Linked DNA regions of Homo sapiens: regions 1 and 2 are each reported to be linked to region 3. Evidence: microRNA targets listed by miRTarBase, many of them from high-throughput screens and not tested one by one. Region 3 holds a microRNA gene; each other region holds the end of a gene's coding sequence.

Region 1 (3,309 bases), not on the chromosome of region 3:
ACCAAAAAATAATTTTTCTGATTATTTCTAAATATTCAAGTTAAGACCTCTATTAACAAAGCAGCTAAGTCCTAAGAATACTTGTTAGCTTGTTCACTCTAAGAGTCATAGAGTACTAATATACGACAAAGCTGTTTTTATTTTTACCTAACTTTTAATAAGCAATTCACTATATGCCAAGGCCTGGGTTAATTTGATGTACTGAATTAAAAATATTCTAGAATGTCAAAATCCCCCTTTAGTGACTTGGTGCTTTGGAAGGAAGGCCGTATTAGGGCATACTGTAAGACAGTATAGAATCTGCTGTAGTCCTTAGGCAGGAAGAGCTGGTTTCTGGTTATCTCCCACTAGGGAGACTGGGAACTCCCACCAGCTTAGCAACTGGCACAAACTAAGTCCACACACACAGCTCAGGACTTAGTTTCTCCTTCCCAAGGCAATCCCACCCACAATGAGCACCTGAAAAGGTGACAGAACCTACTTTCAAATATTATAGCCACCACTAATTACTGAGAAAAACTTCACCTTGAGAAGCTTTGTTCAATTACTATTCACTAACCCTGGTATTGGTTTTTTAGACTTTAGACTTATCTGATGCTGGTAGAGTTCCTCTGTGCTACGATGTTATTTTAAGAAAAAAACACAGATCACCTAGCTTCCAAATCATCCCAGACTGTTGACTCTAATGGTTCTTCTTCAGATGACAACAGTGACACTAGTGTAAACAAAATTATTTTACTTATTATATTCTTCTTTCTTGGAGGTAACTGAATTACTACATTAAGTATAGTAAAACATATTTTATGTTCCTTCATTTACTTTTTATTATCCTATGTGTAAGTTTTGCATAAGTGTGGGATATTTTATAACAGAACAAACCTAAGAAACATGTGTAACTCCAAAGTTATTTGATACCAATATATCTGTTTAGAAAAACTGACCGAAATATTTTGAATATAAATAGCACCCTAATTGTAACTGCTTAACAAGTTACAGTAGTAACATCCTCAGTTGTTAAATGCAAATTACTCTAAGTTTTTAAATACTTGAATGTATATCATTCTTCCCACCCAAGGCAAAAGCAGATATGCTGATATGCAGATATGCTGCTCTTTCTTCCCAGTAATATCAAGTTCTTTTTGTTAACTCACAAGGTAGTCTAAGATTAGTAAGAAATCTTTAGCAGACACAAAAGATGAAAGATGAAACTGCAGCAAGAGAGCATGGCAAATCCAAAAGATCTATTAGTGCATAAATCTACTGGAAAAAAAAAAAAAACAACAAGAACAAAAGAGATAGAATTAACAAGCTACAATAAAAGTTATGTCTTTAAAGCAGTAGATTATAACAGGGTGGGAAATGTTTAATATGTGTCCTCCTGAAAAGCAGTTACCATCTTTTAAATTAAAAAAAACCAGCTGGTATATTTTCACAGCATCTAGATTTATTTATGGTATAAAGCCATAGAATTGTAATATTATTACTCCTTTCCCACCCTGGCAGAGAATAAACATGAATTCAGAAGCACAGTGGAGTGAAAACAAAGAAGAGGAGAGAGAAAAGGCAGCAGAGAAAGACAGAAAAGGTGAATATAGAGCTACAGAAGTGTTTATTGAGCATGCTACAGGGGTAAGCAGAGTACACACAAAATGAAATTAAACAACCATCAAACCTCCCAACTTTGTTAGAAAATTAATTTTTAATTGTGCCGCTTTCAAACTATACTGAATTTTACATTTCTAAAGATGTAAAAACTCAACTAATAGAAAATATACATGACCATTCTGTCTACATAGATAACAGAATCTATGAATCTTGAAACTAAGTACATCAATTTCAAAAAGTATTGGTCATTTAAACAGAATCAACAATTCGGATTGACAAGAACTGTTCAAATTAATTTGACCTGTAGATTCTGAGCCATGTTTTTATTAAAGTCAGATCTATTCCTAAATACAAAATATTTTGAAGATTTATTAAAACTGAATATTACAATGCAAGGTAAATTAAGACTAAAGGCACATAAACTTTGGTCCCACCTGGTTGTCAGTTTTAGAAAACTGCCACAAAATTAATCTTCCTGCATATTTTCGCAGTACACTTTCTTTATCTTTGAAAAATACATGCACCAGTTCCTGAACTAGCTAGACCAGTCTGCACATGCTCAGAAATCCACAACCATATTCCAAATCTTAATTACAAACTAAGGATGGCAATATATATTTAAATGCACGTAAGTCATGTCAACTTCAAAAACATCTACGAAAAATATTCAGCCACAAACAAGACATTACTTAGTGCTGACATTTATATGATACGTCCCACAAGAGTGTGTACGAAAAGGTTAAGATTCCACAATGCTTTCCACATAGGGCTCAAACTTACAGAAATCACTTTGTTGTCTTAAGAAATTAATACTCTGCATCTTGTTAATTTTAACTAATGCCTACATTCATAACTGAATCTAGACCAGAATTGTGAGATACAAAAGGCCAATGTTGTTTTCAAAGCAATAAAGCCTAAGGTAGTAAAAACTAAAAATGCTGCTTTATTCTTTCAATATCATGTATCTTATTTGATTAAATAGAAAAAAAGGTGACAAGCCAGTAATTCAAAATAAGTTCCAAGCAGGAGAAACAAAAACTTAACCTTTTTACACACCCCTGCCTAAACATATTTTAATTCCCATATAACAGTGTGCCCTAAACAACCAATTCCTTTTTTCTAGTAAATGCACAATAGCAACACTAGTTTTCCTTTTTAAGGCACGTATGTCAACTAAGTTGAAAGGAAAAAAAAAAAAAAAAAAAAAGCAAAATTAAACTGAAATTTTAAACAGACAAAATGGCTTCCCTATAGAACAGATGAAATATAGCAGTTAACAACTCTGCCTTTACATATGCCATTTCATTTTATAACCAAGGAATGATAACAGCATGGAAAAAAAAAAGAAACCCCAAAAAAACAAAAACAAAAAAAATCAAACTCTGGTCCCCACTTTTCTGAACAGTCAAATAGGTGATGACATTGAACAATGTGATTCACCCCCAATCTTCATCTTCCCATTTTTAAATTGTTGACTTGGAGAAAGACACTCTCAGATGATGGTTTTCTCCAAGGTTATAATTATGAAGATCAATCAAGGCCTGAATAGCTTCTTCCACTGTTGCCATCTGAAGAAGAGCCATTTTGTGATCTCTTCTGAAACAAAATTATAAAATTAGACACTTCATACAAATTAGAAAGGGCTTATTAAATACTTGAATTTTGGCCATTCCGGAATCAAAAATTTCTATAAACGAAAAGAAC
Region 2 (3,355 bases), not on the chromosome of region 3:
GTACATATTATTTCATCACCAAGGTACTAAGCCTAATACCCACTAGTTATTTTTCCTGATCCTCTCCCTTCTCCCACCCTCCACCCTCTGACAGGCCCTCTATGTGTCCACGTGTTCTCATCATTTAGCTCCCACTTATAAGTGAGAACATGCAGTGTTTGTTTTTCTGTTCCTGTGTTAGTTTGCTAAGGATAATGGCCTCCAGCTCCATCCATGTCCCTGCAAAGGACATGATCTCATCCTTTTTTACAGCTGCATAGTATTCCATGGTATATAGGCACCACATTTTCTTAATCCAGTCTATCATTGATGGACATTTAGGATGATTCCGTGTCTTTGCTATTGTGAGTAGTGTTGCAATGAACATACATGTGCATGTGTTTTTATAATGGAATAGTTTATGTTTCTTTGGGTATGTACATAGCAATGGGATGGCCGGGTTGAATGGTAATTGCTGGTCTTTGAGAAATTGCCACACTGTGTTCCACAATGGCAGAACTAATTTACACTCCCACCAAGAGTGTATAAGCATTCCTTGTTCCTGGAGGCAGAATATTTTTTCCGTCTCTGGATATCAGTCTTTTCTCTTAAGACCTTTGACTGATTGGTTGAGGCCTGCCCATATTATGGAGGGCAATCTGCTTTACTCAAACTCTGCTGATTTAAATATTAGTCGCATCTAAAAAAAAAACATGTTCACAACAACATTTAGACTGGTGAATGGTGCTAGAGCAAGATCTAGGAACCATAGCCTAGCCAAGTTGACACATAAAATTAACCATCACATATGTACATATTTTTGCAAATACAATGGCAAATAAAATTCAAAAAGGCTGGGCACAGTAGCTCACACCTGTAATCCTAGCACTTTGGGAGGCTGAGGTGGGTGGATCACCTGAGGTCAGGAGTTCGAGAACCGCCTGGCCAACATGGTGAAACCCCATCTCTACCAAAAATACAAAAATTAGCAGGGCATGGTGGCAGGTACCTGTAATCCCAGCCACTTGGGACGCTGAGGTGGGAGAATCGCTTGAACCCAGGGGGCTGAGGTTGCAGTGAGCCGAGATTGTGCCACTTCACTCCAGCCTGGGCAAAAGAGTGAAACTCCATTTAAAACAAGCAAACAAAAAAAATTTCAAAAAACATGTTCAACTTTACTGATATTCAAACAAATGCAAACAAAATAAAAAAGAAATATCTTGAATTTGAGAAAGGAGACTAACAGATTTATTTACTTATTTCAAAATGACAATTATTTTAATGACTAACAAAATAGTATGTGACAGTTGGTAATAAACATATTTTGAGATGGCAATGTGAATTGGCATAACAATTCTGGATAGCAATTTGATACTTATTGAGGTGTAATGAGTTTAAATTTATAATAAGCAAATCTTTTTACACAAAAACATTGTGTTATAGGAATTTACCTGAAAGTAGAGTTATAATGTAGGAGAGATAAATGGATAAGGATGGTCATCACAGGAAATTAGATATAATAAGAGTTCAACAAGAAGAAATTGTAATGGCCTTCCTTCAAGTAGTTGTGTTGCAGGACATTGCTGATTTTGCTCAGGACCCATCCTCACCACCTCTCTTTGCTTTACATATGTACATAGACTCAGGGTATGAGATAAATATATTTTAAAAAACTATACTCAACAATACCAGCAACACTATAATAATAATAACAGTTTTGTAAAAGAACATCAATTATACTAAAAAAGTTTTGGGAAAATGTTTGAAACAAAATAGATGTTTAGGCTGGGGGCTGTGGCTCACGTCTGTAATCCTAGCACTTTGGAAGGCTGAGGTGGGCAAATAACTTGAAGTCAGGAGTTCAAGACCAACCTGGCCAACATGGTGAAACCCCATCTCTACTAAAAATACAAAAAGTAGCTGGGCGTGGTGGCACACACCTGAAATCCCAGCTACCTGGGAGGCTGAGGCAGTAGAAATGCTTCAACCCAGGAAGTGGTTGTTGCAATGAGCCGAGATGGTGCCACTGCACTGCAGCCTGAGCGACAGTGAGACTCCAACTCAAAAAAGAAGTTTAACTATTCTCTCCTTCATAAGTTTTTAATTCAAAGGAATAAATATTAAATTTGCAATAGAGAAAGCTGGCAGATCAAGTGGTCAAAGTTGTATCTCCAGGAATGGGACAATTAGACATCATGTAAGGCTTGATATCATGCTCTAAGGACAACATCACTTTTGTAGGATATTTGCAAAAATGTGTAATCTGAGCCTGGTCAAGAAGAAACATCAGAGAAACCCAAATTGAGGGGCATTCTACAAAACCAATAGTTCTTTAAAAAGGTCAATGTCAAGGAAGACAAAGAAAGACTGAAGAGCCATTTCGGTTTGGAGGAGACTGAAGAATCATGGCAACTATGTCAAGGCAATGGAGATCCTGGATTGGATTTTGAACCAACAAAATTGTCTTTTGTTATAAAGGATATTAGTAGGAAGATTGGCTAAATTTGAACAAGGTCTGTAGATACTAACATCTTGGGAGAGCCTGGAGATGAGGACAGAGTATGAAAAGCAATGAAAAAATAACAATCAGTCAAGGCAAAAAGGAATGCATATTTCTGGTTTTATTGTTTCACATCAGGCTGAGCTATGCAAAAAGACAAGCTGCAAAGGGATATAGGTCTGTGCTTTGGGCTTCCCAGAGCAACCACACATACGCAAACTGAGGTCATTAAATGGCTTGGCTTTGGGGGAGAAGTTTTGGGCCTCTGAACTCCAAGACAGAAGAATCCTCTATGCTTGAGTTGAGCCCTCACCAAGACCTCTCAACAACATGGGCAGGCCCAGAAGGAGAAGGAAGACGGAAGGGAAATATTTGGCCATTTGTGTTCTTCTAGGCTCAGGATCCACTTTAGCAGCAGCCTCCAGAGTGCTGGCCACTCCCTCCTCCACAGCAGCTGGAGCCCCCGGAGGGCTGGCTGCAGCAGCCAGAGCTCTGGGGTCTGTGGCAGTGGGACCTACGGCGCCTGTGGTGGCTCAGGCAGCAGCCACCTCCCCCAGAACTGCAGCAACCCCCAGAGCTGGAGCCACAGCTTCCCCCAGAGCTGGAGCCACAGCAGCCTCCGGAGCTGACACTGCAGCAGGAAGAGACTGGAGGACACTTAGGGGGACACTTTGGGGGGCATCTAGGGGTGAGGCACTTGGGAGGGCACTTGGGGATGCACTTGGGAGGGGGCTGGCACTGCTGCTGGTTCTGCTGGCAGGACATCTTGGTGCGGGTGTTCAGGAGCTGAGAGAGAGTCAGACAGCAAGTTAGACCCAGGTAGAGGCCACCCCGGCCTATTCTTGCCCTTTCAGCATCATTTCTAATCCCTACATT
Region 3 (3,000 bases):
AAGAACTTTGCAGCTAAAGGTTGAAGTGAGGTTTGAACTTACATCCATGTAGCTCCAATATATGTTTTCCATATTCTGCAGCTTCCCTTCAGAAAATTACTTTGTTCTCTTTCAGAGAGTGACTGGAAAAAGGGGGAAAATGTGACTTTTAGAGGGTAGCCGTGGTTAGAGAAACTCTTAATCTTTTAACCTGTCAGGAGAAAAGCCAGAAATAGCAGTCACTGAAAGTTGTTTTAAAACTCTCAATTCAAGGTTGGCATGATAATGCAAAATAGTATTATTACGCAGAAATAAGCAATCATAATCATAATACTGATATACACAAATCATAATGCCAATATACACTACTTTCACTTGGATTCAGCACTTCCTACTAGCATAACTACACCTACCTTTATCGCATTCTCACCAAATGAGTTAGGGTTTAAAATGGGCAAACGAGAAATGATGTGGGGATTCCGGCCCATCTTTTAGACTTTTCACATCAATATGGTATGTTAAAATCACACCCCTGGACATCATGCTCGGGAATACTTAAGTAATTTTGCCACAATTCATTTACTAAACAAATATTTAGGTAATTTTTACATGTCCATCAGTACTGTGCTAACCACCAGGTGTACAAAGGCTAAAACAAAAGATGAACCCAGTTCCAGCTCTTAAAGAGTTTACATTTTAGTTCAGGCTTTCAGAAGGAGAGGCAGTGAGTGTGCTATACTGTATAGCATGTGGGCTCTTGAACCAGCCTCTCCACTCACCTCTCCACCTGCTGTGTGACCTTGGCATTTGATTTTTAAGCGACTCGATTTTCTATTTTGTAACATAATCGTTGACTTCAAATTAAAGACATATCTAGTTTCATTTCAGGTGTACGGCACCATACGAAGATGGGGCTAAGAAAATGTTACTATCCTGTATAAACAAGAGGGTTTCTCGCACGTTTTCTTCCTTTAGTATCTGGCATTATTCAATACTGTCCATATTCTACTCCCTGTTCACCGATGAACTGGGACATGTTTTTCACTGCAGCTTAGTCGTCTGGGTGTGCCTGGGGAGGCGTCACAAAGAGCCTATAAAGGGTCCCCACCTACAACGGGAGTAAGAGCGCTGGAAGGAACCCAGGAAGGGCATGGAGACCAAGCGTTCGGTTTCGGAGTGTTTTTTGTGTGTGCCCATATTCACCGAGCTTGGGTTCTCCCACTCGTAACGAAAAGCCCAGTCACTGAGCTGCTACATTTTCTGCCATATCTTAGCCGTCCCCACGCCCCCACACCACCGCCCCACCCTACCTCACCCTCAAGCGTGAGTGAATGCGCAAATAAGGGTTTTCAAGGCGTCAGTGGGAAAGAGGGAGGGGAAGGCAACGCTGAGGACGGGAGGACAGGGCGGTGGCATCCCTCTAGCGAGAGAGAGCCAGAGCCCTCGGCGGCGAGGAAAGCTAAAACCCGGCAGTCCCGGGCCAGAGGAGGCCAAGGCAAGATGCTGGACGGGCGGGGACCGATGGGGGGCAGCAGACCATGGCCGCGCACCCAGTGCGCCCCCGGGGCCTCCTCTTGTCCCGAGGAGCACCCCCGCTCCCGGTGTCTTTTGGTTTCGACCGGCCGACTGGGAGGGGCCGTGGGACGCCATTCCCATAATGCTCTGGGGCGTGCCGCCGCCGTCGCTGCCACCTCCCCTACCGCTAGTGGAAGAAGATGGCGGAAGGCGGAGCGGCGGATCTGGACACCCAGCGGTCTGACATCGCGACGCTGCTCAAAACCTCGCTCCGGAAAGGGGACACCTGGTAAGAGAAAGGGGTTGAGATGCCCGCGGTTGCCCGAGGATAGTGGAGAAGTGGGCGGGAGCCGCGAGCTGGTTCTTTCGCTAGTGACAGGTGCGGGCAGGTCCGGCGGCGGCCGCCGGGGCAGCGGGATTTTGGCCGCTTCTGAAATGTTGGGGCAAAGGTTGGACTCTAGATGAGGGTCAGGGTTCTTGGCTTGCCAGGGCATGCTGAAAGGTATCCGGGGAGCGGCGGCGGCGGCGGTTCTGACTCGTGCGGTTCTCTTCGTCCTCCTTCCTTCCGTAGTGCCGCTCCCACCTCAGGCCTTCCCGAATGATAGGTTATAGTGGTTTGGTTTGAGTCTTATATACGCCGTTTTGACAGGTCCCGGTGCCGCGGCTTATCACGATCTCACCGGCTTTACTTCTCTGTTCATTTCCTTTCCTAGAATTGTCGGCGTCCAAGTTCCCTTTTATTCTGATTCTTGGTCTTCCGGGAGGCAGGCTGCAGGATGTTTGCGGTCTGTACTACACAGGTGGCATGTCAGGGCTCCACATAAGAGAAAGAAACCCTAGTTTCCAGTTCCTTGTCAAAGGAGGGAGAGGAGTAGGGAACCTTGGGCTTATGAGAGACCACGTGGTCTTGTGCTTTAGTGGTGGCTTGATAGAAGCCGGCAGCGTTTCTGTTAGACGTGCAGCCCTTCCCTTCTGTTTGAAAGATAATGTAGGCCTGCAAAAAGTAGATAAGTCCACTTGAGGCTTAACTAACTGCTAATATTCAAACTTGTAAAATACCAAAGGTTATACATTTAAAATACTGAAGGATGTATGTGGACATTTTCACACTTGTCGACCATATCAAGTGGCATCTACAATAACTTAAATATGTGAATATGTAACATAATTTAAAATTCCTTATTTTTTGGGAAGCATAATGTGCCTCTTCATTATAATAAAACATATTTTCACTTTCCACTGTTACCATAACAGTAGTATATAATTCATAGAGTGTTTCAGTATGGCATAGTGAAAGGAACAGTAAGATTTAGACCTGAGTTATGTCACAGTTTCACCACTCAACTTGCAGTATGGCTTTGAGGAGAGTTAATTTAAATCATTGCACCTCATTATCTTCATGCTGTAAAATGGACAGTAATTTTATTATAAGGATTTTATCTTGATTCGTTTTAATATCTTAAGAATTTCATATTTATGAGATATCAAATTTTAGTTATCCTCTTA

The links. Region 3 holds the annotated microRNA hsa-miR-6125 (GCGGAAGGCGGAGCGGCGGA, at 1,698-1,717, shown strand). A microRNA usually pairs through its seed, bases 2 to 8, with sites in the 3' UTR of a target mRNA and lowers its output. Matches are read on the target gene's strand: a 7mer-m8 pairs with bases 2 to 8, a 7mer-A1 pairs with bases 2 to 7 and ends in A, and an 8mer does both.
Region 1: miRTarBase lists PTBP2 as a target of hsa-miR-6125. The part of its 3' UTR that is shown has no 7-base or 8-base seed match.
Region 2: miRTarBase lists LCE1B as a target of hsa-miR-6125. Seed matches in the 3' UTR shown: 7mer-m8 at 2,838-2,844.

What each region holds. Positions count from the first base shown.
Region 1 is chr1:96,813,165-96,816,473 of GRCh38, reverse strand. It overlaps PTBP2 (polypyrimidine tract binding protein 2), which reads right to left. Exons shown (of 14, transcript NM_021190.4): 14 at 1,425-3,198. The coding sequence ends at 3,069. Among named protein-coding and RNA genes, the nearest start is that of PTBP2, 93 kb to the right of the region's middle.
Region 2 is chr1:152,812,336-152,815,690 of GRCh38, reverse strand. LCE1B (late cornified envelope 1B) reads right to left here. Exons shown (of 1, transcript NM_178349.2): 1 at 2,583-3,355. The coding sequence starts at 3,244. The coding sequence ends at 2,888. Among named protein-coding and RNA genes, the nearest start is that of LCE1B, 2.0 kb to the right of the region's middle.
Region 3 is chr12:62,258,721-62,261,720 of GRCh38, forward strand. MIR6125 (microRNA 6125) reads left to right here and starts at 1,639; the gene lies at 1,639-1,734. It overlaps USP15 (ubiquitin specific peptidase 15), which reads left to right and starts at 1,684. Exons shown (of 22, transcript NM_001252078.2): 1 at 1,684-1,783. The coding sequence starts at 1,695. It also overlaps a transcript of TAFA2 not described here. RefSeq lists enhancers at 940-1,009, 1,560-1,919, 2,140-2,189, 2,913-3,000 and silencers at 1,270-1,329, 1,410-1,519.